Homo sapiens: one gene and its partners. The protein of the gene in region 1 purifies or fractionates together with the protein of each later gene. This does not show direct contact. Each region holds a gene or a part of one and is shown in the gene's direction. Other genes may lie near its edges.

What was found.
Region 2: the proteins of CD160 (region 1) and POGLUT1 purify together in Homo sapiens (affinity purification with mass spectrometry; one large-scale study listed by BioGRID and IntAct). This does not show direct contact.
Region 3: the proteins of CD160 (region 1) and LOXL1 purify together in Homo sapiens (affinity purification with mass spectrometry; one large-scale study listed by BioGRID and IntAct). This does not show direct contact.
Region 4: the proteins of CD160 (region 1) and ITGA6 purify together in Homo sapiens (affinity purification with mass spectrometry; one large-scale study listed by BioGRID and IntAct). This does not show direct contact.
Region 5: the proteins of CD160 (region 1) and TCTN1 purify together in Homo sapiens (affinity purification with mass spectrometry; one large-scale study listed by BioGRID and IntAct). This does not show direct contact.
Region 6: the proteins of CD160 (region 1) and C1QL1 purify together in Homo sapiens (affinity purification with mass spectrometry; one large-scale study listed by BioGRID and IntAct). This does not show direct contact.
Region 7: the proteins of CD160 (region 1) and ATF6 purify together in Homo sapiens (affinity purification with mass spectrometry; one large-scale study listed by BioGRID and IntAct). This does not show direct contact.

The regions. Positions count from the first base shown.
Region 1 is NC_000001.11:145,736,081-145,739,880, forward strand, and holds the end of CD160 (CD160 antigen precursor), read left to right. Parts: coding exon 1-54; coding exon of another isoform or gene 55-221; exon of another isoform or gene 222-2,405; coding exon 2,406-2,413; 3' UTR 2,414-3,208; downstream 3,209-3,800.
Region 2 is NC_000003.12:119,489,052-119,493,061, forward strand, and holds part of POGLUT1 (protein O-glucosyltransferase 1 precursor), read left to right. Parts: intron 1-1,499; coding exon 1,500-1,667; intron 1,668-2,466; coding exon 2,467-2,523; intron 2,524-3,230; coding exon 3,231-3,387; 3' UTR 3,388-4,010. UniProt on the Homo sapiens protein: Dual specificity glycosyltransferase that catalyzes the transfer of glucose and xylose from UDP-glucose and UDP-xylose, respectively, to a serine residue found in the consensus sequence of C-X-S-X-P-C.
Region 3 is NC_000015.10:73,924,698-73,929,330, forward strand, and holds the start of LOXL1 (lysyl oxidase homolog 1 preproprotein), read left to right. Parts: upstream 1-1,764; 5' UTR 1,765-2,086; coding exon 2,087-3,188; exon of another isoform or gene 3,189-3,263; intron 3,264-3,367; exon of another isoform or gene 3,368-3,551; intron 3,552-4,633. UniProt on the Homo sapiens protein: Catalyzes the oxidative deamination of lysine and hydroxylysine residues in collagen and elastin, resulting in the formation of covalent cross-linkages, and the stabilization of collagen and elastin fibers.
Region 4 is NC_000002.12:172,489,974-172,493,983, forward strand, and holds part of ITGA6 (integrin alpha-6 isoform b preproprotein), read left to right. Parts: intron 1-1,050; coding exon 1,051-1,149; exon of another isoform or gene 1,150-1,247; coding exon 1,248-1,358; exon of another isoform or gene 1,359-1,451; coding exon 1,452-1,550; exon of another isoform or gene 1,551-4,010. UniProt on the Homo sapiens protein: Integrin alpha-6/beta-1 (ITGA6:ITGB1) is a receptor for laminin on platelets. Integrin alpha-6/beta-1 (ITGA6:ITGB1) is present in oocytes and is involved in sperm-egg fusion.
Region 5 is NC_000012.12:110,616,766-110,620,775, forward strand, and holds part of TCTN1 (tectonic-1 isoform 1 precursor), read left to right. Parts: exon of another isoform or gene 1-139; intron 140-3,070; coding exon 3,071-3,191; intron 3,192-4,010. UniProt on the Homo sapiens protein: Component of the tectonic-like complex, a complex localized at the transition zone of primary cilia and acting as a barrier that prevents diffusion of transmembrane proteins between the cilia and plasma membranes.
Region 6 is NC_000017.11:44,959,111-44,962,676, reverse strand, and holds the end of C1QL1 (C1q-related factor precursor), read left to right. Parts: intron 1-2,309; coding exon 2,310-2,489; 3' UTR 2,490-2,984; downstream 2,985-3,566. UniProt on the Homo sapiens protein: May regulate the number of excitatory synapses that are formed on hippocampus neurons. Has no effect on inhibitory synapses.
Region 7 is NC_000001.11:161,845,937-161,849,946, forward strand, and holds part of ATF6 (cyclic AMP-dependent transcription factor ATF-6 alpha), read left to right. Parts: intron 1-512; coding exon 513-644; intron 645-4,010.

The DNA.
Region 1 (3,800 bases):
TCCTACAAGAAAAGGTCTGGGTAATGCTGGTCACCAGCCTTGTGGCCCTTCAAGGTATGTCCAAAAGAGCCGTAAGCACCCCAAGCAATGAGGGTGCTATTATATTTCTGCCACCTTGGTTATTCTCCAGGAGGAGAAGGTTGGAAAGGATGTCCAGGGGGAGAGAAAAATGTTACTCAAGCCCTGGCTATCCACAGGAAAGTTCAAACCAGTTTCACTGATCCAAAGGCACTAAGGAGGAAGACAGATAAATCAGACTTTTCAATGGGTAGGAGGTAAGACTCATTAGGAATGAAGGCCTGTGAGAGAGGCAAGTTAGTACAACTACCTCTACTCACTGCATGAACAGAGGGCTACAAGTTGAAGCAACAGATTTTCAGCTATTAGAGGAAGAAAAGGCAAGAGACAGACTTGGTTTGGAGATGGGTTTTGAACAATGCGGCTCCTCAGCAAAGGCTGATGGCCAGATTGAGTATATTAAACACATGTAGCTGAGTCCTCTGAAAACCATTTACCAATATAGATTAGCGTTTTCCCTATTAGATAACAAAAAGTGAAACTTCCAATAATTTGTCATAACGTTTTTGCATAACAAGCAACTGATTCAGGTTTTTGCCTGGCCTTGGCATTCTTAACTCCATTTTATTTAGGCATTCCTCAAATCAATAACTACCACTGTTTTGAATGGCATCAGAATGTAAGCTCTATATATATGTAAGGACTTTGTCTTCTTTACCCCAACGAAAAGTCCCACACATATGGCAGGCTCTTAATAAATTTGTTAAAAAACCTGTATGATGAATCAGATGCTTTACACATGATGATTCTAACCTTATACAACCCTTGCAAGCAAACATCCCCTGGTTACTCATCAGGAAACAGACACAAGGAAGTTAAATAGGGCCTGGTGCGGTGGCTCACGCCTGTAATCCCAGCACTTTGGGAGGCCAAGGCAGGCAGATCCTTTGAGCCTAGGAGTTTGAGGCCAGTCTGGGCAACATGGCAAAACCCCAACTATACAAAAAAATACAAAAATTAGGCATGGTGGCACACAACTGTAGTCCCAAGCTAAGGCATGAGGATCACCTGAGCCCAGGCTGGTTGAGGTTGCAGTGAGCCATGATCATGCCACTGTACTCCAGCCTGGGTGACAGGGTGAGACACTTTCTCAAAGGAAAAAAAAAAAAAAAAAGAGTTAATTGTTGCCCGTCACAGCAATTAATACAGATCCTTCTCACTCTAAAACCTTACACTCAGTAATGATCTACTATATGCAAAGCACCTCTTACATCCTTCACCACCCCATTCATTCTGAGATTGACTCCTCCCCTTTCCAGAAACAGGACCACCTAAACATTCCCTATTCCAGTCCCTTATTTGCAAGTCATCAAAAGAAAACAGAGATTTCAAAAAGAAAACAGAGACCTTATCTGTAATCCTTGGTAAGGATCTTCCAAATTTAAGCCTATGCCAGTTTTCAGGAGGAAACATGAATATGAAACAGTCTGACCTTTAGACATAATTTTTTGTTGACTTTAAATTCCCTTGGTTAGGCCACTGTAACCAGTAAAATAAATTTTATTTTAGAATAAAAATTATAAAGGGGAAATTGAGTCTAGCCATACAACCTACTACTAGTTACTATCTTTGATTCCCAAGTCATCCTAGAGCAAAAAAAAAAAAAAAAAAATCATCTCTGGCCTTTTTTTCCTTTTCCACTCAGGTGAAGAGAATGAGCTTTTGAATCCAATTTTTTGTTTTCTCCTATATTCAATTCAAGTAGCTTTAAAGTTAACCAAAGGAAAAAACCAAAGCTCAATATTTGATTAAACGAGAAAATATACACTACTTAGAAGCTTTCTTTTCTTTATCCTTCTTCCCCAACTCAAGGCTTAGTAGAATTATTGAAAGAGGTAGTATTCAGTAGAATAGTACACATGCTTTTTCAGGTCCAGAAACACCACATAGGTCAAGTTATCATGCTTACATGTGGGGAAAAGGAGGAGGGAGTTTCCTGGACCTCTGTGCCTCTCTCAGCTCATGAACTAGTTTCAGTGAATATCCTTGTCTTACCACTGTGCCAACAATTCAGAGCTATACGTGGAAAACCTACCTTCAACTTTTTGAGTGGCATCTATTGCTTCTTTGATTGTTCCTTCCAGCAAGGAGCGATCAAAGGCTAGCCCCCTTCCCACTCCCACCAGAATCAGATTTGCTCAAGATTACAACCCTAATTTAGTAATAAGATGCAATACATAAAATAGTTCCCACTTTCCTTTTCCAATCCCTTTACAGTCATGAGGGCCTATCACGCACGCATCTCAGGACAGGTGAGACTTCATTATATCAGGTATTTTGTTGCTATTCTAAGTTATAAGGCAGTAATACAAACTTTCTTTCCACAGCTTTGTAAGCCTTGTGCCAAAAGAAACTTTTAAAACAGCTACAGCAAGATGAGTCTGACTATGGCTTAGTATCTTTCTCATTACAATAGGCACAGAGAAGAATGCAACAGGGCACAGGGGAAGAGATGCTAAATATACCAAGAATCTGTGGAAATATAAGCTGGGGCAAATCAGTGTAATCCTTGACTTTGCTCCTCACCATCAGGGCAAACTTGCCTTCTTCCCTCCTAAGCTCCAGTAAATAAACAGAACAGCTTTCACCAAAGTGGGTAGTATAGTCCTCAAATATCGGATAAATATATGCGTTTTTGTACCCCAGAAAAACTTTTCCTCCCTCTTCATCAACATAGTAAAATAAGTCAAACAAAATGAGAACACCAAATTTTGGGGGAATAAATTTTTATTTAACACTGCAAAGGAAAGAGAGAGAAAACAAGCAAAGATAGGTAGGACAGAAAGGAAGACAGCCAGATCCAGTGATTGACTTGGCATGAAAATGAGAAAATGCAGACAGACCTCAACATTCAACAACATCCATACAGCACTGCTGGAGGAAGAGGAAGATTTGTGCAGACCAAGAGCACCACAGACTACAACTGCCCAGCTTCATCTAAATACTTGTTAACCTCTTTGGTCATTTCTCTTTTTAAATAAATGCCCATAGCAGTATTTGGAGTCTTTTCTTTTCTCCTAAATCCACAAACTCTCTTCTTTCTCTTTGGACAGATGACCTCTTGTCATAGTTAAGCAGAGAGTGGGCAGGATATTCCTGATAGGAGGAACTACATGAATAAAGGGGTAAGAGCACAGAAATTTAGCTACAGCTCCATGGTGAGCCATTAAAAGGAAAGAGACACTTTACCTGTGCTCCTTGGCAAGGACCTGCCAAATGTGGGAGCTAAGGTTTGTGGGAACGGAAAGAGATATGGCTGAAGTAGATGAGTAAGACTCTTATTAGTGATAGTCTTGAACCTCAAACTAAGGATTTTAGACTGTATCCCATGGAGATAAAAGGACTAGCCATGGAGGCAAAAAGACCTGGATTCAAATTCTGGCTCTGCAACATACCAGCTATTTGTCATTGGGCAAATGAATTTTTTTTTTTTTTTTTTGAGACGGAGTCTCACTCTGTTGCCCAGGCTGGAGTGCAGTGGCATGATCTCAGCTCACTGCAACCTCCACCTCCCGGGTTCAAGCAATTCTCCTGCCTCAGTCTCCCAAGTAGCTGGGATTACAGGCATGCACCACCATGCCTGGCTAATTTTTGTGTTTTTGGTAGAGACGGGGTTTCACCATGTTGGCCAGGCTGGTCTCAAACTCCTGACCTCAAGTGATCCACCCGCCTCAGCCTCCCAAAGTGCTGGGATTACAGGCGTGAGCCACCTCACCCAGTGC
Region 2 (4,010 bases), on another chromosome or scaffold:
GGTGAGAACTTTAATATAAAGGCCCAGCTGGAGTAAATGAAAGTTGCATTAATTCATTTCACTGGCTTTTCCTCAGGGCCTAAATGCACTGACCTGAGTTCTGTGGCGACTGTAGAGAAGAATGGAACATGGTTCCTGCTTCCAAACAGCTGCATGCTAGCTAGTAATCACAGTAATGGAATTACCTCTCCATATGCCCCACCCACCCAATCATTGAAGTTAGAATAAATATTTCTCAGTTAATAAATATTAGAATTATTATCCTGGTGTGCTGGCATGCTCCTGTAGTCTTAGCTACTCGGGAGGCTGAGGTAGGAGGATCCTTTGAGCCCAAGAGTTCAAGACCAGCCTGGGCTACATAGTGAGACCCTGTCTCTAAGAGAAATAAAATAAAATTCTGGGACTAAGAATTAGATGAACAGGTAAAACCAGGTCTAGAGGAGGGCAGTGGTGGTGGGGGTGGCTCAGAGTTAGGAGTGCTAATGACACGCAGAGTAGGAGCTATATGGTGAAAGCAACTCTGGTTGGCGACAGGTGCGTGCATAAGAAATGCTGAGAAGAAGACAGCTTTTTTTGTTTTTTTTTTTTCCCCTGTGGGCAATCTCTGAAAATTGATTAGGTTTTCCTCATTCTCCTCTCTACACCAGGGGTCCCCAACCCCCTGCCATGGTACTGGTCTATTAGGAACCAGGCTGCATGGCAGGAGGTGAGCAGTGGGGAAGCGAGCATTACCGCCTGAGCTCTGCCTTCTGTCAGATCAGCCTTGGCATTAGATTCTCATAGGAGCACAAACTGTATTGTGAACTGTGTATGCAAGGGATCAAGGTTGCGTGCTCCTTATGAGAATCTAACTAATGCCTGATGATCTGAGGTGGAACAGTTTCATCCAAAACCATCTCCCCCACACTACCCATCCATGGAAAAATTGTCTCCCATGAAACTGGTCCCTGGTGCCAAAGAGGTTGGGGACCGCTGCTCTATACTTTAAGAGAAGAGGGTGATGTCCAGGAAGCAGTGGAGACCTTCGACCAGATGGGGTACACTAGAGGAAAAACAAGGCTTTGGGAGGCCATGACTAGTTAGAGACATTAGGCCTAGAAAAGCTTGTGAAATTTTTTTCACTCGTTTTATTTTATGTTTACCATTGAACATTTATTTTCTCAGATATGTTCCAAATCTACAAGCTGTCATTTCCTTCTGAGCCCTGTATACACTCTACCCGGCACCCAGCTCCTGACCCTATCTAGTGCTGTCTGGAGAAAATATCCCCTATTTTTCCTCACCCTGCCATTCCCAGAACAACCTGTAGTCCTAGCCCTGGTAAAGTGGCTGATAGAAACCACTTAGGAACATATTAATGTGTCCTTGAAAACTCAAAGTGGAAAGAGAATGGAGAGGAATCATAAAAGGAAAGAAGGGGAGGGGAGAATAAGCATAAAAGGTCATATTTGTGGCAGCAGGCATATAGTATCAAATGTATTTTGTTCTTTTTTCCCCAGGTATCTGTTTAATTTTCGAGGCGTAGCTGCAAGTTTCCGGTTTAAACACCTCTTCCTGTGTGGCTCACTTGTTTTCCATGTTGGTGATGAGTGGCTAGAATTCTTCTATCCACAGCTGAAGCCATGGGTTCACTATATCCCAGTCAAAACAGATCTCTCCAATGTCCAGTAAGCAGTTATCCCCCAATGCAGAGTTTCTAAAGACCCTTCCAATCTGCTTTTAAAAATGCCTTAATGCCTTAAAACCAGTCATGTAAGACATTTAGTCCTACGATTTTTTTCCATTGAAAGCTTTTTTTCCTCTTGGTTTGCATATATAGTATTGCATTATTATCCAAGTAGGCTATAAGTGGAATTTAATTTGAAAAAGCGCTTTAATACTGGTTTCAAATGAAACGTTCAGACAAAATGAAGTTAAAAAGCTCTAATCTCTCCAAGACTAAAGATAGGGATATTCAATCTTATTATATTGTCAAAAGGATTTTCAGATACAGCATGAGAATTGACTCAAGTGAAGCTTCAGCAAATTTCCTTTCATGACAGGAGGAGCTAGGAAGAAGTATAGAGAAGGGCCAGAGTTATCTGAATATTGTTATCATGGTGATATCTGTGTATATATATTTTTTTTCTATATATAAATATATTTATATATAAATATGTAAAATAATATAAATATCTAATATAATATATAATATAAATATACAAAATATATGTAAATATATAAGGTAACTTCTGTATTTTCTCAAATATGTCCCAAATCTACAATAGGGTATCTTTAATCAGTGTGTGGGGGTTTTTTTTTGTTATTATTTTGTTCTTGAGAGAACCCTGATATCTTTGCTTGAAGGAAATAATCCACCATCCACATACCTAAAATTATCCATAGACCTCAATCTATATCGTCTTTCTGACTTAGTGCCAATGAAGTTGGTCTATATTTCACAGTCTAAAATTCTTTTCATTTTAGAGAGCTGTTACAATTTGTAAAAGCAAATGATGATGTAGCTCAAGAGATTGCTGAAAGGTGAGTTCTGTTCATTTTCCCTTTTCCACTTTACTTTTTGTCATCCCCATTATGCCCTAGCCAAAGTTATCTGAATATTGTTATCATGGTGACATCTGTATTTTATCCTCATTATATGGAGATAATTCAGAACTAAACCTGTCCTGGGGGAAAACATACACACATGTCTACATATGCTTGTTTTAAAGGAAAAAGATGGGCCGGGCGTGGTGGCTAACGCCTGTAATCCCAGCACTCTGGAAGGCCGAGGTGGGCGGATCACCTGAGGTCAGAAGTTCAAGACCAGCCTAGCCATGGTGAAACCCCATCTCTACTAGAAATACAAAAAAATTAGCCGGGTGTGGTGGTGCGTGCCTGTAATCCCAGCTACTCGGGAGGCTGAGGCAGGAGAATCACTTGAACCCGGGAGGCGGAGGTTGCAGTGAGCCAAGATCGCACCATTGCGCTCCAGCATGAGCAACAAGAGCGAAACTCCGTCTCAAAAAATAAATAAATAAATAAATAAATAAAGGAAAAAGATTGTTAAGTTGTATTGCTACATGCATGTATGTGGATATGATTGCCATAGGGTTGGTTCTTGAGGCTCAAATGAATTAATTTATATAAAATGCTGAATAATGCTTGGCACAAGGTGAGCACTCAAATGCAGACTGCTATTATCATTAAATTCTGTGCTTTAACATTTTCTTGTTAAATCTTGTCTCTAGGGGAAGCCAGTTTATTAGGAACCATTTGCAGATGGATGACATCACCTGTTACTGGGAGAACCTCTTGAGTGAATACTCTAAATTCCTGTCTTATAATGTAACGAGAAGGAAAGGTTATGATCAAATTATTCCCAAAATGTTGAAAACTGAACTATAGTAGTCATCATAGGACCATAGTCCTCTTTGTGGCAACAGATCTCAGATATCCTACGGTGAGAAGCTTACCATAAGCTTGGCACCTATACCTTGAATATCTGCTATCAAGCCAAATACCTGGTTTTCCTTATCATGCTGCACCCAGAGCAACTCTTGAGAAAGATTTAAAATGTGTCTAATACACTGATATGAAGCAGTTCAACTTTTTGGATGAATAAGGACCAGAAATCGTGAGATGTGGATTTTGAACCCAACTCTACCTTTCATTTTCTTAAGACCAATCACAGCTTGTGCCTCAGATCATCCACCTGTGTGAGTCCATCACTGTGAAATTGACTGTGTCCATGTGATGATGCCCTTTGTCCCATTATTTGGAGCAGAAAATTCGTCATTTGGAAGTAGTACAACTCATTGCTGGAATTGTGAAATTATTCAAGGCGTGATCTCTGTCACTTTATTTTAATGTAGGAAACCCTATGGGGTTTATGAAAAATACTTGGGGATCATTCTCTGAATGGTCTAAGGAAGCGGTAGCCATGCCATGCAATGATGTAGGAGTTCTCTTTTGTAAAACCATAAACTGTGTTACTCAGGAGGTTTCTATAATGCCACATAGAAAGAGGC
Region 3 (4,633 bases), on another chromosome or scaffold:
TTCCCTTCCCTCCCTGCCTAGGGGTACCCTGAGGCCTGTTTCCATTTCTCCCCCTCCTCTGCTGCAGCAGCTGCCCATCTGGCTGGCGGGAGGGCCCTACAGGACCCCAGGGATTCCAAGCAGCTGAGGCCAACACTGCAGGGGGCAAGCAGGAGGGAGGGAAGGCTTAACCCTCCAGGTCCCGGCCCTCAGTAAGCCCTGCCTCAGCATCTTGCTTGGTGTCAGTCACACCAGTGGCTCTTTGGAGGAATCTTGTCTGGAGTCTGAGATGGAAACCCCATGCTGGGGAGCTGAGGTGTCAGCGTTGACAAGTTGCTGGCCAGGAGGTATTGGAAGCCCCCTACCTCTGGGCTGGATTCTGGGCATTTAAAGGGTAGAGACATGCTGGAGTCCAAGCCTCAGTCCTGAAGAACAGTGCAATGGGTGAACAAATGCTGCCTGGCAAGGATGGGGTTGGGAGGTCTATAGTTCCCAAAGAATGTCCACTCTAGTTGCCTCCTCTCTAGGTGGGCTCCAGGCATTTCCAAAATAAAGAATATACAGGAGCCAAATTAAGGACAGGTCCTTCATACCTTGTTTATAAGCCCAAGAGGGCAATTTCTGCCCTTCGGTTCCCAGGAACACGGTTGGAGAAGGCAGCCCAGGGGAGGCCAGAAGAGCAGTATTTGGAGTGTGATTTCTTGGATGCCAAAGCGTTCAAACTTCTGGGACCCCCTCCTATCCCTGCCATTCCCAGAAGGAACAGAGAATCTCCCAAAGCACTCTCAGGAGCCATCTGGCCTAATCTTCCATTGGTAAGCCGTGGCACCTGGATCAGATAGAGTAAGGGACTAAGCCACACAGCAACAGGACCAGGCCAGGTCTCCGGAACCCCCTTCTGTTGTTCAATGCTTACTGGCTTCTCTGCCTCACAGTGACCCCTGTCCCATATCAAAGACAGCCCCCAGTTTCATTTTATCCATGTGTACACTCAAGTTATTCCCAGGCTATGCAGAGCCAAGAGATGTAGGACAGAAACCATACGTGATGTCTGGGAAGTTGATCTCTCCCAGGATCTCACAAGTGCTTTTCAGCTCAGGGATACACCCCACTCTTCAGACTGGGAAAGTAAGCCCCTGAGGTGTGCCACGAGGGAAAAGGTGCAGCTCCAGTGCCTCTCTTCGCAGGCCCAAGAGCTGCGGTGCACCTGGGACCTGGAATTAGAGAGTGGTCCCTGTTCAGCATCTCCCCGAGGAGGCCCACCAACAAAGAGGGTGTGTCTTTTTTTTTTTTTTCTTCCTATTGAGGGTGTGGGATAATGGTGGAAGGAACATGCAAAGAGGGTGTGTCTTAATTAGCACTGGCTTTAGGGAACAAGGAAAAGGGAGAACCCGGGAGTACGGGAAGGAGGCTGGGGCAGACAGGAGTCAGAGGCCCATTCCAGCCCAAACGAGAAGCCAGTGAGCAAGGTGGAGACCAGGGATGCTGTGACCAAAGCAGAGAGGAATGGGCGGGGTGGTGCTGACACCCCAGCCCCGTTCTGCCTGCCAGAGCCCCACTTACCAGGCCCGAGTCCCCAGAGGTCCCCTCCTACTCCCTGCTCGATTCCCTTCCTCAGAGGCAGGTCTGTGGCTTGGCTGGGAACTCCAGGGACTGAGGGAGCACTGCAGCTGTGGGACCGGCGCATAGCTAAAAGCCGGCGGGCCATAGGGCCCCGCGGAGGAGGCCCCAGCAGGCGGACCAGGAGGCCGAAGCCTCCCGACGCTCCCAGCCTGTTGCTTATTCATTCAGAGTGGGAAAGCGCCAGCCGAGCGGCCAGCCAGTGCGGGGCTGGCCATGTAAGGCCCACAGGCGGTCCTGCCCGCCCGGTGCCCTGCGGAGAGCCTCGTGCAGCCCTGGGCACCGCCCCTGCCCTGCCCTGACCCCTTGGCCTTGAAATGCTGTCATCGGAGGAGCCGTCCCGCTCGGGACAAGGCCAGCATGGACAAAGCTAGAGCTGGGGCAAGCAAGGAGCCTTCCTGTCCTCGAGGCCGTGGGAAGAGAAGCACGCCCAGGGGGCCACTCCTGAGAGCCTCTCTGTCCACCAGGCCTCTGCAGAGGGGTCACCATGGCTCTGGCCCGAGGCAGCCGGCAGCTGGGGGCCCTGGTGTGGGGCGCCTGCCTGTGCGTGCTGGTGCACGGGCAGCAGGCGCAGCCCGGGCAGGGCTCGGACCCCGCCCGCTGGCGGCAGCTGATCCAGTGGGAGAACAACGGGCAGGTGTACAGCTTGCTCAACTCGGGCTCAGAGTACGTGCCGGCCGGACCTCAGCGCTCCGAGAGTAGCTCCCGGGTGCTGCTGGCCGGCGCGCCCCAGGCCCAGCAGCGGCGCAGCCACGGGAGCCCCCGGCGTCGGCAGGCGCCGTCCCTGCCCCTGCCGGGGCGCGTGGGCTCGGACACCGTGCGCGGCCAGGCGCGGCACCCATTCGGCTTTGGCCAGGTGCCCGACAACTGGCGCGAGGTGGCCGTCGGGGACAGCACGGGCATGGCCCGGGCCCGCACCTCCGTCTCCCAGCAACGGCACGGGGGCTCCGCCTCCTCGGTCTCGGCTTCGGCCTTCGCCAGCACCTACCGCCAGCAGCCCTCCTACCCGCAGCAGTTCCCCTACCCGCAGGCGCCCTTCGTCAGCCAGTACGAGAACTACGACCCCGCGTCGCGGACCTACGACCAGGGTTTCGTGTACTACCGGCCCGCGGGCGGCGGCGTGGGCGCGGGGGCGGCGGCCGTGGCCTCGGCGGGGGTCATCTACCCCTACCAGCCCCGGGCGCGCTACGAGGAGTACGGCGGCGGCGAAGAGCTGCCCGAGTACCCGCCTCAGGGCTTCTACCCGGCCCCCGAGAGGCCCTACGTGCCGCCGCCGCCGCCGCCCCCCGACGGCCTGGACCGCCGCTACTCGCACAGTCTGTACAGCGAGGGCACCCCCGGCTTCGAGCAGGCCTACCCTGACCCCGGTCCCGAGGCGGCGCAGGCCCATGGCGGAGACCCACGCCTGGGCTGGTACCCGCCCTACGCCAACCCGCCGCCCGAGGCGTACGGGCCGCCGCGCGCGCTGGAGCCGCCCTACCTGCCGGTGCGCAGCTCCGACACGCCCCCGCCGGGTGGGGAGCGGAACGGCGCGCAGCAGGGCCGCCTCAGCGTGGGCAGCGTGTACCGGCCCAACCAGAACGGCCGCGGTGAGTACGGCCCCGGCGCCCCTCCGGCCGCGCGTACCCCTGGCCACTGGAAACTGCTCCGGGCCCCCCGGGCCCCTCCTTAGAACTTCCTGGAGGCCTCCCCGGAGCTGCTAAGCACGGAGCAGCGCCCCCTCCCGACTTCCCCCGACCCAGCCAACAGCACCCCCCTGGCATCTCACCTCCCAGCTTAACCCGCACCCAGGCATCATCAGTGCCAGGGGTTGGCCAGGCAGGTGTGGGCTCTGATCCTGGCTTTGGTGGAGGGACTAGCCGAGCTTTGGGAGGAGGCTCGCCTTCTGCACTTGGCTTGGGTCATCTGAGGACAAAAGGAAGGAGCCCCTCATCCACCTTCTCCCTCATTTCAATGAGGGCATCTCCTTCCCCCCTTAGAGATGTTCTATGCCAGCTCACAGGGTGAGGCAAGGAGCATCAGAAACCTGAGTCTTCAGGGCCAGAAAGGCCTTAAGGGATGCCCCTGGAGGTGTGGCAGGCTGCCCATTACTGGGCATGTGTGAGGTTGGCTTGAGTGCGCAGGAGGTTAGAGGGGAGCGTGTGCTCCAGGCAGGAGTCCGGACTTCCTCAGGGGAGTCTGCAAGGCTGGGGCAAGAGAGACCAGTCAGGCACTGGCCTGGGTGCAGAATTTCAGGGGCTACCAAAAAACACAGTAGTTGAGATGAGTAATATTGAGATGTATTTTTTTAAGTCAAAATTAATGCAAAAAAAAAAAAAAAAAAAAAAAACCTGTGATAAAGGAAATATCCAGATTTTAAATAGAGTCAGTAATAGTGGTATGCCGAGCCATATTGGAGCCTGAGGCTAACTGAAAAATCAGCAACACGGATCCTGTCTTTATTTGATATTTGGATATTTTGTTCATTACAGATAGTTTTGCATTAATTTTTATTTTAAAAACTATTGTGTTAAATATTACTTATCTCCGTTACTGAGTTTTTTTGGCACCCCCTAAAATTTTGCACCCCGAGGAAAAAAAAAAAAAAACACCTCACTGGCCTCATTCCCCTCACCCTAGTCCTGGCCCTGGCGGAGAGCCCCAGCTGTGGACAGGACTCCCTCTGGCTTTTCAGGGGGTGAACATACGTCCTCCTCTTGGGAAGGCCCAAGCCCTCTGCACATGAGGACACAGTGGAAAGGCAGCTTCCACACATGCTGTTAGCAGACAGGGCTACTGTGACAAGGGCTGACTGGTGGGTGTGGCCAGTGCTGGACGGCCATCAGCCATTCTCTGCTGTCCTAGAATCCCCCTCCCTGCTACCCTCTCCATACAGGCAGCTTTTGGGCCAAGGTTTTCTACTCAGTCCCCAATACTTATGCAGTCCAACTCTGCCTTGCCTCTTTCAAGCTGTCGTCAGTTTCCTCTACCCATAATTCTCTGCTCCCCATTGAGGTTGCTGTGCCTGGCCCACCAAGTAAGGGCTGACTGAGCC
Region 4 (4,010 bases), on another chromosome or scaffold:
CTGCTGTTATCCAGGGGCCAGCCAGTGTTCACTCCAAGTAGAACCAAACTCATTGGAAAAGATAATGGCATCTCAGCAAGTAACCTTGAAAGCTTTTTATGCTTATTTTTAAAATAGTAATTATTTATTGTGTACTCATTGTGTCTCAGGAACTATGCTAAGCATTTTGTTTTCATTTTCTCATTTCATTCTCTGGATGGTCCTATGAGGGCGTTTCATTATCCTCACCATTTCACAGATGAGGACATTAAGATTCAGAGAGCAAGTAACTCTCTCAGTCACTCAGGCGTTAAGAGACAGATTCCACATACAAGCCCTGCTCTGCCTGATGTCAAAGCCTGTACTGTTAACCCCTCTCTCTATACTGCTCCATGCTTAGATAACTGGCCTATCATTTGTGTTCCAGTTTGATGAAGGTTTGCATGTTTATTTCTTTTATTTTAAATTCTAAGGTGACTGGGTATGATCAGTGATCAGAGTTGGTGGCTTATAGCATGATCTTCTACTCATCAATGTTAAAAATCAAGATAATCGGTTATTACTAATCTTTGCTATAAGGAAAATGCAATTTTAAAAGTTCTTGTATGGCTTAGTTTTCATTGCTCTGCTCTGAATGAGCTATATAATGGGTCTTTTTGCTTCTTTCTCTGTTCTTCAGTGTCACTTATTCCTTCAAGATGTGCTGACTACCATGTTTTAGGAACAGAGCTGGAGGCTAGGGATACAGGAATAAGATTTGATCTCTGATCTCAGTATGCCCACAGTTTGGTGGGGATACAGAGGAACAAAGAAAGCATATTTCTCTTTCTCTGAGTTTTAAGGTCAGAGTGGGAATGAATTACTTAGTCCTATGAGTAAATCAATAAACTTGAATTTAGAGTGATAATACTTGCTGGTTTTACACTTACTTCTGTGCCTTTGGCAGGAGAGAGGCAAATATTGTTGATTATGTGAATCTGGCACTGTTTGGGAGGATATGCTCAAGAGGCTTGTATGGTAATGACAAAGAATTACATAAATTGGAACTATTTTGGATATAATTTTTTTCAGGAGTCTCACAACTCAAGAAAGAAACGGGAAATTACTGAAAAACAGATAGATGATAACAGAAAATTTTCTTTATTTGCTGAAAGAAAATACCAGACTCTTGTAAGTATTTTTCAAGAGCTGTGAATATTTGAGAGGATGAGGGGAAGGATTTCTTCAGAACAATGTCTTTTGATGACCATTCTTCTTTTTCTCTCTAGAACTGTAGCGTGAACGTGAACTGTGTGAACATCAGATGCCCGCTGCGGGGGCTGGACAGCAAGGCGTCTCTTATTTTGCGCTCGAGGTTATGGAACAGCACATTTCTAGAGGTATGACCTTGGCTTGAGGCTGTCCCATGGAAGTAATTTGCCTTTGCCTAGGACACTTTTCACTTCCCTAATGCATTCACTGTCTCCAAACAGGAATATTCCAAACTGAACTACTTGGACATTCTCATGCGAGCCTTCATTGATGTGACTGCTGCTGCCGAAAATATCAGGCTGCCAAATGCAGGCACTCAGGTGAGAGGTTCCCCAGCTTCATTCAGGTTCAGAACATGTCTCTTTTCCCTGTACCCCACACTCATGTCCTGAAGTCATGTGCTTTGGTGCTCATTTCCCTCATAGCCCCATTACGGAGAAAACTGTCTTAAGGTACTGGCACTGCAAGCTGTATTTTAATAGAATCATTGAAAAAAAGAAGTAAATCTAGGGTCATCCAGTTCAGCAGTGCCCATGGTAGGTTTGAGAACTACTGGCTCAATTCAGAGAATGGGTGCACCTCACAGCCCTCTAGAAACCTGTGTCTTCTACCATCTCTAATGCTGCAGCCATTGGTGTAATGCCCCAGTGATGGCCCATCCCTTGGCCAGCTGTAATTATTAAAAAAGATCTCTTCATAGCTGACTCCTGAACTGAACCTTGTAAGTCCCTGGTTATGCCCCTCAAACAAGTCTAAAATAAGTTCTCTCTCTTGGCCATGTAGCAGCCTCTCAAATAATTGAAGGAAATGGTCATGCCTCCTTGGATGTTTCTTATTCTTCTCAGAGCTTATGCACCCAGCTCTTGAGTTATGCGTCACATTGGGCACAGCTGAACTGGCTCCTGGCCTCTCCCTTCCTGGGCAATTTGATTCCCACGTGGACAGAGCAGCTGAGGTGGGGTCTGCTTGGTCCCACTTACCCTGGGGCCTTTACCTCTCAGCATCTCGGCACCACACTTCTGTCAGACCTGCCTAAAATTTGCTTTTTCAAACCATTGCTGAGCAGCATGTTTGAATTTCTAGCAGCTGCTATTTTTGTGTTAGTGTTCTACTGAAACTTCCAGGTGTTTTCATCAGAATTTGTTGTCAAGCTGTGTTTCCAGTATCCTGTCCTTGAGCTATTTGTAAAAATCTAAATGTATGCCTTTAAGTGTATCCTTACATTTTATGTGATTTGCTTTGGGTCCATTGTTTCAGTTTGCAAAGTAATTCTGAATCTTGCTTCATCATTTGCTTTCTCAACTTTCTATCCCTGAAAGTTTTAAAAACTGAGAAGCATGTTCTCTATGTCTTCATCCAGGTAATGACAAATATGTTGAATAGGACTAGGTGTAGAACCTTGTAGTGAACCAATAGTGAGGGGTTCCCTGTGGGAGTCTAGAACCCACAGGGACTTGTATAAAGATCTCGAGGCAGAATGACTGCATGTCATGGTGGGAATAATGAATGGGAATGTTTTGCAAAAGAGACTGGAGAAAGAAATACTGTGAATTACTGTTCTTAAGTTAATCTGCCAGTCTACTTATGGAAATGTTCTGGCTTCAGTCATTTAGCTAGCTGAAAATTCAGGGAGCCTCCCTAATCATTCTGTTTTCTGAAATATAGCAGTCCTTACGATTTATTATCCAAGCAAGAATACATTTTTGTTTTTATTTAGTTTTTTGAGATGGAGTCTTGCTCTGTTACCCAGGCTGGAGTGCAGTGGCGCAAACACAGCTCACTGCAGCCTTGAATGCCTGGGCTCAAGCAATCCTCCTGTCTCACCTCCTGAGTAGCTGGGACCACAGGCATGCCACCACGCCCAGCTAATTTTTCAGTTTTTTTTGTATAGCCAGAGTCTCACCATGTTGCCCAGGCTGGTCTTTAACTCCTGGACTCAAGCAATCCGCCTGCCTCAGCCTCCCAAAATGCTGGGATTATAGGTGTGAGCCACTGCACCCAGCCCCAGGATACATTTGCCTGAGACAAATGCTGTACTGGGCAAGCTGCTGCGATAAGTGGTATCAACCAGCACTGTCCCGGTCTCTCCAGGACATATCAACAGGCATCATAAGGGACTTTCAAATAAACCACACCTTCCCTAAGGATCCTTTCTCTGCATCTATAAAGGCAGCAGGTATAGCTTTCTATAACTGTAAATCAGCAACTCTGAAAATCACTGAGATTTCAGAGCTAGACAGAGAACACTTTAGAGGGAAGGGACTAACATTAATGAAGCCTTAATAAAATGTCTGCAGCTTACTAGATACTTTATACTCTATCATTCAAACTTCAGAAGAATGCCAAGGGTAAACATTGTACTCATTTTACAAACAAGGAAGCAGACTCAGAGAGGGGATATAATTTGAGACCCTCAATTGAAACCTGTAATTGTCTGACTTCAGGGCTTCTGTTCTTTGACTCTGTGGCACTTGGTCCCCTTAAAGTCCCCAAATCTCAAATTGAGATAAGAAAACTGAATCCAAGGAAAGGTATCTCCCCGTCAGGGTCACCCGACCAGCAAGTAGAGCTGAGACCAGACCTTGGGTCTGATGTCTCCTCTTCAAGTGCTGTCTTCTTCTGGAAGATGATGGAACTCTGGGGGCCCTGGTGTCCAGTCTGATGACTGGGTCACAAATGAAAGTGAGGTTCTCTTGGGCATTTTATGTTCTTAGAGCTTGGAGAACTCATGCCTCCCAGTGGGAATTGATGTCTTCACAAATTGGTAGATTTGTGAATGG
Region 5 (4,010 bases), on another chromosome or scaffold:
ATCGGAGCAGGAGGCTGACTGTGAGTGGAGAACTGGATGGAAAATTGCAGGTGGCTTCAGGCAGTGTTGGTGGAGAAGAGTGATAACCCTTCATCTTGAATCTGGGCTCTGTTCATTAGTACCCTGCTCTACAAGCCAGGTGTGCAGATGCGATAGGAGGCAAGGGCAGCTGAGTGCTGCTTAGACCTGACAGGGGCTCAACAGCTACTTGGTGGATGATTAAGTACACTCGCATCCTGGGTAGAAACCTTTTTCCTAAGTGGAGTTATTAAACACTATTGCTTCGTCCTTAGTAGTCTTACAGCTGCCTATAAGGGCTTTAAGTTTTGAAAACAAAGCAAGATAGTAATTTTAAACATACAGGGAACCTAAAGCACTTTTAATTTTTTACATTAGCGTGCATAAGTTGTGTCATTTTACTAGGCACATAGAAGAGTTCTCAACTAGAGAGAAGCACTGTAAACTTTAGGGGGAAAGCTTTTGTGTCTTAGACTAAGAAATCATGGCATATTAACAAAACCTTCCCCTTCACCTCACACATTTTTTTTGCAGAGTGCATTATACCTTTTACGGGGTACTATTTTTTTTTTTTTAATTGCCCAGGCTGGAATGCAGTGGCGCAGTCTCAGCTCACTGCAACCTCCACCTCCCAGGTTCAAGCGATTCTCCTGCCTCAGCCTCCCAAGTAGCTGGGATTACAGCCGCGCGCCACCATGCCTGGCTAATTTTTTTGGTATTTTTAGTAGAGATGGGGTTTTACCACGTTGGCCAGGCTGGTCTCAAACTCCTAACCTCAGGGGATCCACTCTTCTCAGCCTTCCAGAGTGCTAGGATACAGGCGTGAGCTATGGGATACATTTTTCTTTTCTCTTTTTCTTTCTTTTTTTTTTTTTGAGATGGAATCTTGCCCTGTCACCCAGGCTGGAGTGCAGTGGCACGATATCGGCTCACTGCAAACTCTGCCTCCTGGGTTCAGGCTATTCTTCTGCCTCAGCCTCCTGAGTAGCTGGGACTACGGGTGTGTGCCACCATGCCCGACTAATTTTTGTATTTTCAGTAGAGACGGGGTTTTACCATGTCGGCCAGGCTGGTCTGGACCTCCTGACCTCGTGATCCACCTGCCTCAGCCTCCCAAAGTGCTGGGATTACAGGCTTGAGCCACTGCATCCGGCCGCTGTGGGGTACATTTTTCTAAAGCTCCTTTTTATCGTGAAATAATTCATACGTACAAATAAGAATGTTGGGTGGACACTAGCAGCATTTGCTTCAGATTCCTTTTTTGTTAATTTTGTTTTTTGGCTTGAGATCTTTTTTTTTTTTTTTTTGAGATGGAGTCTCACTCTGTCATCCAGGCTGGAGTGCAGTGGTGTGATCTCAGTTTACTGCAACCTCTGCCTTCTGGGTTGAAACGATTCTCCTGCCTCAGCCTCCCTGAGTAGCTGGGATTACAGGCGCCCACCACCATACCTGGCTAATTTTTGAATTTTTTTTTTGAGATGGAGTCTCGCTCTGTCGCCCAGGCTGGAATGCAGTGACGCGATCTCGGCTCACTGCAAACCCCGCCTCCTGGGTTCACGCCATTCTCCCGCCTCAGCCTCCCCAGTAGCTGGGACTACAGGTGCCCGCCACCACACCCAGCTAGTTTTTATATTGTTAGTAGAGACGGGGTTTCACCGTGTTAGCCAGGATGGTCTCAATCTCCTGACCTTGTGATCCGCCTGCCTTGGCCTCCCAAAGTGCTGGGATTACAGGCATGAACCACCGCGCCCAGCCTAATTTTTGTATTTTTAATAGAGACAGGGTTTAACCATGTTGGCCAGGGCAGTCTCAAACTCCTGACCTCAAGTGATCTGCCCGCCTCCCAAAGTGCAGGAATTACAGATGTGAGCCACCGTGCCTGGTTTGAAATCTTCTTTTGAAAAAGAAAACGTTACAGATAAGATTGAAGGTTGATCTTACTTCTTCCCTTCCAGCAATAATTGCAACTATAAATTCATTCTCTATTTTTTAAAAGGGTTTTCTTGTCCTTATTTGACAGAATAAGATAGAGAATTAAAAATCCAGATAATCATCTTTGTTGCAAAGCGGCAAAGAAAAATCATCCTTATTAATGATTAAAAGTTGACCAGGAGTGGTGGCTCACACCTGTAATCCCAGCACTTTGGGTGGCTAAGGCTGGCAGATCACTTGAGGTCAGGAGTTTGAGACCAGCCTGGCCAACATGGTGAAACCCCGTCCCTAATAAAAATACAAAAAAAAAAAAAAAGTTGGGCGTGGTAGTGCATGCCTTTAATCCCAGCTACTCAGGAGGCTGAGGCAGGAGAATAGCTTGAACCCAGGAGGTGGAGGTTGCAGTGAGCCAAGATTGCACCATTGCACTCCAGCCTGGGCAACAAGAGCCGAAACTCCTTTAAAAAATAAATAAATAAATAAAATAATTAAAAGTTGTGAGGTGGGGGAGATTCCTACCCCGCCCTCATACCTTATTGTCTAAATCACCAAAGACATTCTGAGCACCTGAGCCGGTATGATTCTTGGCCAAGGGTCTGTGAATATGAGTTCAGCTTTAAAGCAGCAGGTTATACGTGAAGAGGGGGCAAGATTGAAAAGTCTCTTTCCTGAAGGTTTAAGTGGGCCCTTCCTCTGAATCGTAATCTCTAGAGGAGGGGCTTAAGGACTTTGGAGTTTTAAACTGGTGGTTCTTATGGTCAGGCAAATGGTTTAGGGGTGCTTGTTCTTAAACTTGTCTAATTATAAGCATCACCTGGAAAGTTTCTGAAAACTGCAAATGCCTGGGTTTCATATTCAGCTTACGAAATCAGCATCTCTGTAGGCAAAGCACTAACAGAACTTTCCAAGCGAGTCAGATCATTAGCCACTTTGGGGAAACCTCTGATTGTGGGATGCTCAAACTGACTCATTTCCACTTCACAAATTTCCCCCAAAGTGCAATAGGAAAAATAAAATGGATCTTTTTTATGAAATTGACTTATGGTACACTGTGGTGGCAGGGGGCAGTCACCACCTGCTGATGGTGATGTTCTGGATCCTACCCCTCTTTTTTCTGCAGTTGCTGTTCTCTGTGTCTGTGACTTATCCCCAGCACAGTGTGACATCAACTGCTGCTGTGATCCCGACTGCAGCTCCGTGGATTTCAGTGTCTTTTCTGCCTGCTCAGTTCCAGTTGTCACGTAAGTTTACGTATGACACATGCAATTTTGAAAAAATTTGACCAGGATAATACAATTTGGAGAAAGGGAAAACTTTCCCAGGCTTAAAAACCCAAACCTGATTTCCAGTGTTTTACGTCGTTCTGAAGCCATACCGTCCAAACAAATATGTAAAAAAGTAGCTATCCCTGGCAGGGCGCAGTGGCTCACGCCTGTAATCCCAGCACTTTGGGAGGCTGAGGTGGGTGGATCACGAGGTCAGGAGATTGGGACCATTCTGGCTAACACGGTGAAACCCCGTCTCTACTAAAAATCCAAAAAAATTAGCCGGGCATGTTGGCGGGCACCTGTGGTCCCAGCTACTCGGGAGGCTGAGGCAGGAGAATGGCGTGAACCCGGGAGGCAGAGCTTGCAGTGAGTGGAGATTGCGCTACTGCACTCTAGCCTGGGTGACAGAGCGAGACTCAGTCTCAAAAAAAAAAAAAGTAGCTATCCCTTATTTGCATTCAGCCAGGTGACTGTGCAGGCAAAAGAGAAGAGAGAATATACATTAAAATAATGTAATGAAACCTCTGTGTTTGAAGATTGAATTACATTTCAATTTGAGTTGTAGACAGTGGTCACATTTTTTGTATCAGTGAATTAGTATAGCCTAGGGTGAAAAGTGCATTTTAATTTCACAGCTTTTGTTGTGGACATAGTATTTGTAACAAAAAATTAGATAAGAAATCTGTACTTTTCTGATATGTAAATCTACCAGGAATTCTCACAGTTCGCATTGTATAGAACAATGAAAAATGACATTTCCAGCTGATTATAAGGTAAATAAATAATCTGTTC
Region 6 (3,566 bases), on another chromosome or scaffold:
TAATAAATATTACCAGGATTAGGGCTCAGGGAACAATACAGAAGTTGGCTGTTTGCTTTCAGCTCTTCCCTAATAACTCAAAGCCCCATCAAGATCTAATGTTTTTTTTTCTTTATCATCAAAAGACTTTTACAGAGGTGGCAGTGGTGAGGCAAAGTCTTCTCATCCATTTTCTAGACAGAGAAACTGAGCTCCTTGGCAGACAGCATCTCCCCCTTCATTTATTCCCTCCCACCTTTAACTAGACCAGTTTTCCCAGCTAAGCACACAAAGAGTTTCTTCTCAGGTTGGGAAGAAGAGGTTGAGGGAAAAGAAGGGGCTGGAGAAGGGCTTTAAAGGGAGGCCCTCATGCAAATATGTCGGGTCCTCTTCATTGCAGCATCGCGGCTGAGTCAGCAGCTCTGGCACAGCTGACCTGCAGTGCTGCCTCCAGCCCAGGAGAGAGGATGGGCCCCTCCCCTAATTTGGCTTGGTTCTACCCAGACTTCAGCCCTGGGAGTTGGGATGGTAAGCTGCCTTCAGTGAAGGGACAGGATAGAGAGGGGCCGTGGAGAAACCTGGCTGAGAGAACTCCACTCAGTGCAGCCTCCCCACACCACAAGCCACAGTCCTGGAGAGGGCGCTTCTCTTCCATGTCTCTACCCAGGATACCCTGGAGAGGCCCCGATCCTCAAACTCAGGACTTATGTTTCCATACCTGTTAGCTGAATGTCTGTAGATCATTCGTTCACCACCACACAATCTCTCTCTCTCTCTCTCTCTCTCTTTTTTTTTTTTTTTTTTTGAGACGGAGTCTCGCTCTGTCGCCCAGGCCGGACTGCGGACTGCAGTGGCGCAATCTCGGCTCACTGCAAGCTCCGCTTCCCGGGTTCACGCCATTCTCCTGCCTCAGCCTCCCCAGTAGCTGGGACTACAGGCGCCCGCCACCGCGCCCGGCTAATTTTTTGTATTTTTAGTAGAGACGGGGTTTCACCTTGTTAGCCAGGATGGTCTCGATCTCCTGACCTCATGATCCACCCGCCTCGGCCTCCCAAAGTGCTGGGATTACAGGCGTGAGCCACCGCGCCTGGCCTTTTTTTTTTTTTGAGACTGAGTCTCACTATGTCGCCCAGGCTGGAGCGCAGTGGCATGATCTCGGCTCACTGCAGCCTCCATTTCCCAGGTTCAAGTGATTCTCCTGCCTCAGCCTCCCCAGGAGCTGGGATTACAGGCGTGCCACTATGCCTAGCTAATTTTTGTATTTTTAGTAGAGATGGGGGTCTCACCATATTGGCCAGGCTGTTCTCGAACTCCTGACCTCAAATGATCCACCTGCCTGGGCCTCCCAAAGTGCTGGGATCACAGGCATGAGCCACCGTATGCAGCCACCACACAATCTCTTATGATTATAGTCAGAGCCCCCAAAAGTGACGGCAGGCTCCAAGCCCAAATGCTGGTGCTCCCTTGACCCATTATCCTGCCTGTCCCTCCCCATCCCCCATCAAGGCAGGGACCAGCAAGGATGTCACATCAGACTGAGAATCCCAGAGGGAAGTAAGGCCTGGATTCCCTTCTTCCCACCCAGTTCCTTTCTACCACCCTGAGGTGAGACAGGAGGAGCTACAATCCTCTTTGGGTGGGTAGTGACAGGTACATAGCTACAGCTCCATGGAGGCTGGCACCCAGGCCCCTTCTAAACTCTGGGAGGGGAAAGCATTACCAGGCCTTCTGTCTCACTGCTGCAGCAGGAGAGACTCTGGAATGCACTTCAGACCAAAGACCTGGCCCTGGTTCCAGGGTGGTTGCTGACTGGCAGCCTGGCATTGGTCCAGCTGCCTGACCTGTGGGGCCAAGGTGTGCCCTTGTGTCCATCCACTGACATAAGATCCAGCGGGTGTGGCTGAAACGATGGCATCATTATGAAAGCAGAGAGGAAGGAATGATGAGAGTAGGGAAGGCCCTCCATTCCCTGGAGGTCCAGAGAATTCCTCTTTGCAAGGACAGGCTTCCAGGCTTCCTGGAGGTATTGAGGTTCTCAGCCAGCTGGAGGGAAAGCCCTATAAGAGTTAAGGAGGAAGACTCTGCCTTGACTCCCAATTCAGGCCCAGATCAGACCTGCCCTAGAAATCCAGGGATCCTCTCTGCCCCTTTCCTGAAACAAGTCCTGTATGATTGGAAGGGGGCGGGGGAGGGGGAGCGTGGCAGGGATGAGGCGAGGCTGGAGGCCAGGTTTCTGGGTCTGCTGATCCTCCCCCACGGGACTGCCTCACCTCCCTCCCTTCTCATCCTCTCTCTCCTCTCGCCCTCCCTCCCGTGTCCCCCACCCGCAGGTGCGGGCCAGTGCTATTGCCCAGGACGCGGACCAGAACTACGACTACGCCAGCAACAGCGTGATCCTGCACCTGGACGCCGGCGACGAGGTCTTCATCAAGCTGGATGGAGGCAAAGCACACGGCGGCAACAGCAACAAATACAGCACGTTCTCTGGCTTCATCATCTACTCCGACTGAGCTCCCCACGTCTCCCTCCACCCACGTCCCTCACCCGCCGGGGTCCCCTCCGGGCGGGGCAGACGATGACTCGCCCCTCGCCCACCCGCTCGCTGCCCGGCCCTCCCCGGCTATGACGCCCCCGGCCCGTGCTCAACACCGCCTGGGCCACAGCTAGGCCCTCCCACCGGCTCGCTGCAGAGCCGGGCCCAGCGCGCCCTGTCCCCGTGCCAGGGAACCGGGGTTGACCGCCCCCGCCCAGCCCGCGCTATATATTTGTACAATAGGACTGTTTACTGCCCACCTCCGCCTGCCAGCCCACCCCAGCCTGGGGAGAGGTCGCGGCGGCGGGTTTGCTTCCTGCGCTCTGAGATGAGCTGCCCTCCGCTCCCTCCGGGGTGGCGCGCCCGGGGGAGGGGGGAGTTGGGGGCTGGATAGCTTCCCAGCACCCTCAGAGCCCCCGCCCGGCTGTGCCCCGTCTGACCAAAGTTATAATAAAAACATTTTCACCCCGCAGGGGTTTCAGTCTGTGCCCTGGGGAGGGCTGCGGGAGGCGACGGTGGACCGTGCCCTCCTCCAGATTAGGAAGGGGTCTGGTGGAAGTTTCTAGGGGAAACCAGGTGCCAGAGCCAGAGCTACTCCAAGAAGAAGTTGCCAAAGGGCCTAAAGCCCACCACAACCCAAGTGGGCCTGGGCAGCTGGGATGGGAAGCAGCCCAGTTACTTCATCATCTTCCATGGTGGACACATTCCTTTTTTTTTTTTTTTTTTTTTTAGACGGAGTCTCGCTCTGTTGCCAGGCTGGAGTGCAATGGCAAGATCTCGGCTCCCTGCAACCTCCGCCTCCCGGGTTCAAGCGATTCTCCTGCCTCAGCCTCCCGAGTAGCTGGGAATACAGGCGCACACCACCACGCCCAGCTAATTTTTGTATTTTTAGTAGAGATGGGGTTTCACCATGTTGGCCAGGCTGGTCTCAATCTCCTGACCTCATGATCCGCCTGCCTCAGCCTCCCAAAGTGCTGGGATTACAGGCGGGAGCCTCGCTGAAAGTGGCATCAGCATTCCACAGGCACAGGTGATCTTTAAACAGGGAGACCTA
Region 7 (4,010 bases), about 16 Mb from region 1:
AAATAGAAGTATTTAAAAAATTTTTTTTTCTTAGCTTTATCTGATAGCCTGCCTTCTGGAATTGTGAAAGGCTAACAATGAATTTGACTTTTATTCCTACTTCATTTGAAGTATTCTCTCATTGAAAACACCAGTTTGCACCATCCAGGAGGCCTTCTTATTTCAGTTATTATTGGAGTTTAAAATTTGTTTTTAGGTGTGTCGTATTTATTTCTACTTCATATATACATGTAATTATCAAGTTTTTAAAACATATAGAACACTACTATTGTTTAAACAGTTTATAAATAAGGTACTTTTATACTTAGAAAAATTGTTTTTGATATGTGCAGGTTACCATGCTAAGGATTTGAACACCTTCAGTACCCTATTTGTACTTGCGTCTATGCCTAGCATTTTTGTTACGTGCATGGATCTGCAAAGGAATTGTGGTTTGTTTCACAGCTGCATGTAGCAGGCATATGTGTGACATATTTTTATTTCAGCTATTATTTCCTGTTTTTTATTTTCAGCATGTTGGAACAGGATTCCAGGAGAATGAACCCTAGTGTGAGCCCTGCAAATCAAAGGAGGCACCTTCTAGGATTTTCTGCTAAAGAGGCACAGGACACATCAGATGGTATTATCCAGAAAAACAGCTACAGGTAAGATGGCATGCATCTATCTTTTGGCCTAAGTGATTTAATGAAGCTGAAACAAGAGAATTATCTGTAGTATAACATTGCATCTAAATTGTTCGTGTATATTTTGAGTAGTAGAACACATAAATTACTGAAACCATTAATACATTTTACTTTTAATATTGTAAAATTAAATTTACTTTGAAACCTTTTGTAGTTTTAAAATTCCTATAGAGATGTAATCTTAAAATCTCAGTTTGTGTGCATTAATATACATATTGAAATATATACATATTATATATAATGTCTTTAATAATTATTTTATCTATCATGTGTTTATACATATAATACATCTAATATTTGTTACTGTCTCACCTGTGGATGGATATGATATGGTGGAATAACATGATTGAACCTATTTGCAGTCATTAGGTAAAATCATTTATACTCATTTATTGTGATCTTTGTTGAATCCCTCCCTTGTTGCAATTTAATAATGACTTGATAAATTTCCATATTGCTTGTCAATAGCAAAAGGCTTTAATTGTATAAAAATGCAATTTCTATATTATGTTAACTAGAAGAAGGTATAGTGGACATTTTTATAGTTGTATACTTTTTGATAAACATTTCCCTGTGTTATTTAGAATTTGTATTAGAGCCAAATGGAGCCAGGTCCTTGACTAACAAGGCAAAGGGAGGTCACAGTATGGTAACTATTGCACAGTATAATGCTTGAAAATTATTACAGATTTGTTTACTTTTATCTCTTTAAGGATTTGTAGGTTGAGGGCAATCTTTCTTCCTGATTTTTACTGTGTTACATCCATACTGTTGAAAGATGATCACCACAATCCTGCAGGCTTGTCTCCACTTAGCCTTCCTGAAAAAACTGTTATTTTTGTGGAGTACAGTATGCCAAGTCAGTGGAGGACCCAAAGGATTTTATGGCAGTAGCTGCAACGCAACATAGCAATGATAGATGTCATAATGTTGGAAAACATAGCATTTCCTGCTTTTTTACATGCCAAAATTCATCATACTTCTTAAAATATTCACCTTGATGATCTCTTAACGGTGCCCCTGAATATTGGTAGAGTTTAATAGTATATTTAATTTTCATAAGTAATTTGTGCAGGTTTGCCCTACGTGTTCTATAATTTTGAATTCTGTTAGTGTCCACATAAGATCCATCAAAAATTAAATTTAAATCTAATAGCCTTTGGATTTACGAGAGTTGAGATAGCGTCTTGCTAAAGAATAGAACAAGTTATGGATTGAATGCTTGAAATTACAGTTCAGGTAAGCTTTACAAGAATATTATTTATTCTGCACTAACTGCAGCAAGTAGAAGCCTTCCACATTAGCATAAGATAACATGGTGGCTCCCAGAAAGCATAGTAGTCTGATCATACTAGTTCAAACTAAAAGTCTGAATGACTTTCTGGCTGAAATTTATCAGCTTTCAGAGTAGTACATGGGATGCAAGCTATTTTTTCCCTCCCTTCTCCAAAGTCACCATTGAGTGAATAATCTGGGTTACTGGTCTTGGGGAAAAAAAAAAACCAAAAAACAACCCAGGAAAGATTATGGATTCTTGATTCCATGCAAGTCCTTTGAAATATTTTTCAGCAACTTGAGAGATTTAAATAAATGTCAGTCCATTAATTTGATGTTCTTGATTTTATCAGTATAAATACTGAATAAAAGATACCAAAAAATGTTTGTGAAACATTTGAAAGCACCTAATATTACTTTGTTCTGTGTTCTGAACTGAATTTTAGATGTTTTATCTATTTTCAGCCGTGATACCTATACATTTTTTTTAATGCAGCTTACTTTATGTTTCTTTTTCTAAGGAGAGCTATGAGACATGGTTCAAATAAAAAATGAGTAGATTCTAATCCCATAGTTTATAATATTGTATTAGCCTATCATTTAGTAATTAACTGCTTATATTTTTTCAGTCATAGAAATGTGTGGCATATAAATAGTATGACCATATAATGTTCTATCAAACTGGGACACTCTTAAGAAGGAAAGGTAGTGCTAGTAATAATTACATCAGAATACCAGTACTGCTGTCTTGGATAAATGAGAAAGGATGGTCACCCTATATAAGATGTCACCCAGAACTGATCTTTACTCCAAGAATTCTCATTAACTCTAGCTCCCTAGCACTGTCCTTTACTTTATTTACTTTAATGATTTATTTGTTGAATTTTTTTCTCTTGGCATAAAATGTTTGCAAGCAGACTCGAACTCTGACTGTTCCTGGGCTAATGTTGGTCTAATTGTCTCCAGATTGTATGTTGGCTGATTTTCTCTCTCCTTTAACTCCACCCAATCCTTGTCCTGGTATTTCTCCTATCAGACTTTTTTTTTTTTTTTCCAAAGAATATTTTTGGCTGATAGAACAAAGCCAGTTAGCACAGATGTGCAGAAATCATTACTAGAGTTCAGATCACAAATATATTTTCAAAAGCAGTTTTGGACTTTTCTCATGGACTACAGTGTTTGTATTTTTCTAAGTATGCAGGCATGATTTTTAAAATAATGCGTATGTCATAGATTTATAAGAAGAGGTGTTAAGCAGCCTCCTCTTAGAGGCATTCAGATTTATCAAACACAAGACAGATACTTTTTTTCCTTCTCACTCAATGCTTCATTTTAGGCTGATCCTTTTGTGTTTGCATTCATTACCTGTGCACCAACATGTCTGTTTTATTCCAAACAACTTAAACCTACTTAACCCTTACAGCCACAAGAGAGGACATTGAGAATATTCCTGGTGCAAGTTGCAGGGAAGAATGTTCTATATATCCTCTGCTATTGTTTCTTTTCTCTCGTGTGTGGCATAAATAGCTATCTCTAACTTTTAACTTGAAGTTAGCCTTCCACTCTGCCAGAGTTATTTCTGTTAAGGGGCCAGTGCTTTCTGCCATCTTACTTGCCCTTTCCTCAGCATTTGGCTGTGTGGGTCATTTGCTCCTTGAAAGACTTTCCTTTTGTGTTACTATGGTTTTTTAGTTTCCTTTTTTTATTGGCTGCTGCTTCACAGTAATCTTTGTGGGCTCTTTTTTTACCCAACTCTCAAGGTTTGGAACTGTAAACTTTTTTTATTTTCTTTCTGCCTAGGTGACTCATCTATAATTTCATGCACAGTTCATATCTATATGTCCTGATGACTCTCAAATTTATGTTTTCAGTCCAGACTTCTCTTCTGAGTCTCCAGAGTCACATATCCAATAGTCTCTTTGACATCTCTGTTTTAACATTTCAAACTTAACATGTGCACTGTGGAACTCAGTTCCTCTCCCTGTTTTACTTCCAACCAATTTTCTACAACTGTGTTTTTTCCTTTCCATTGCTTAAGCCAGAAATCCTGAT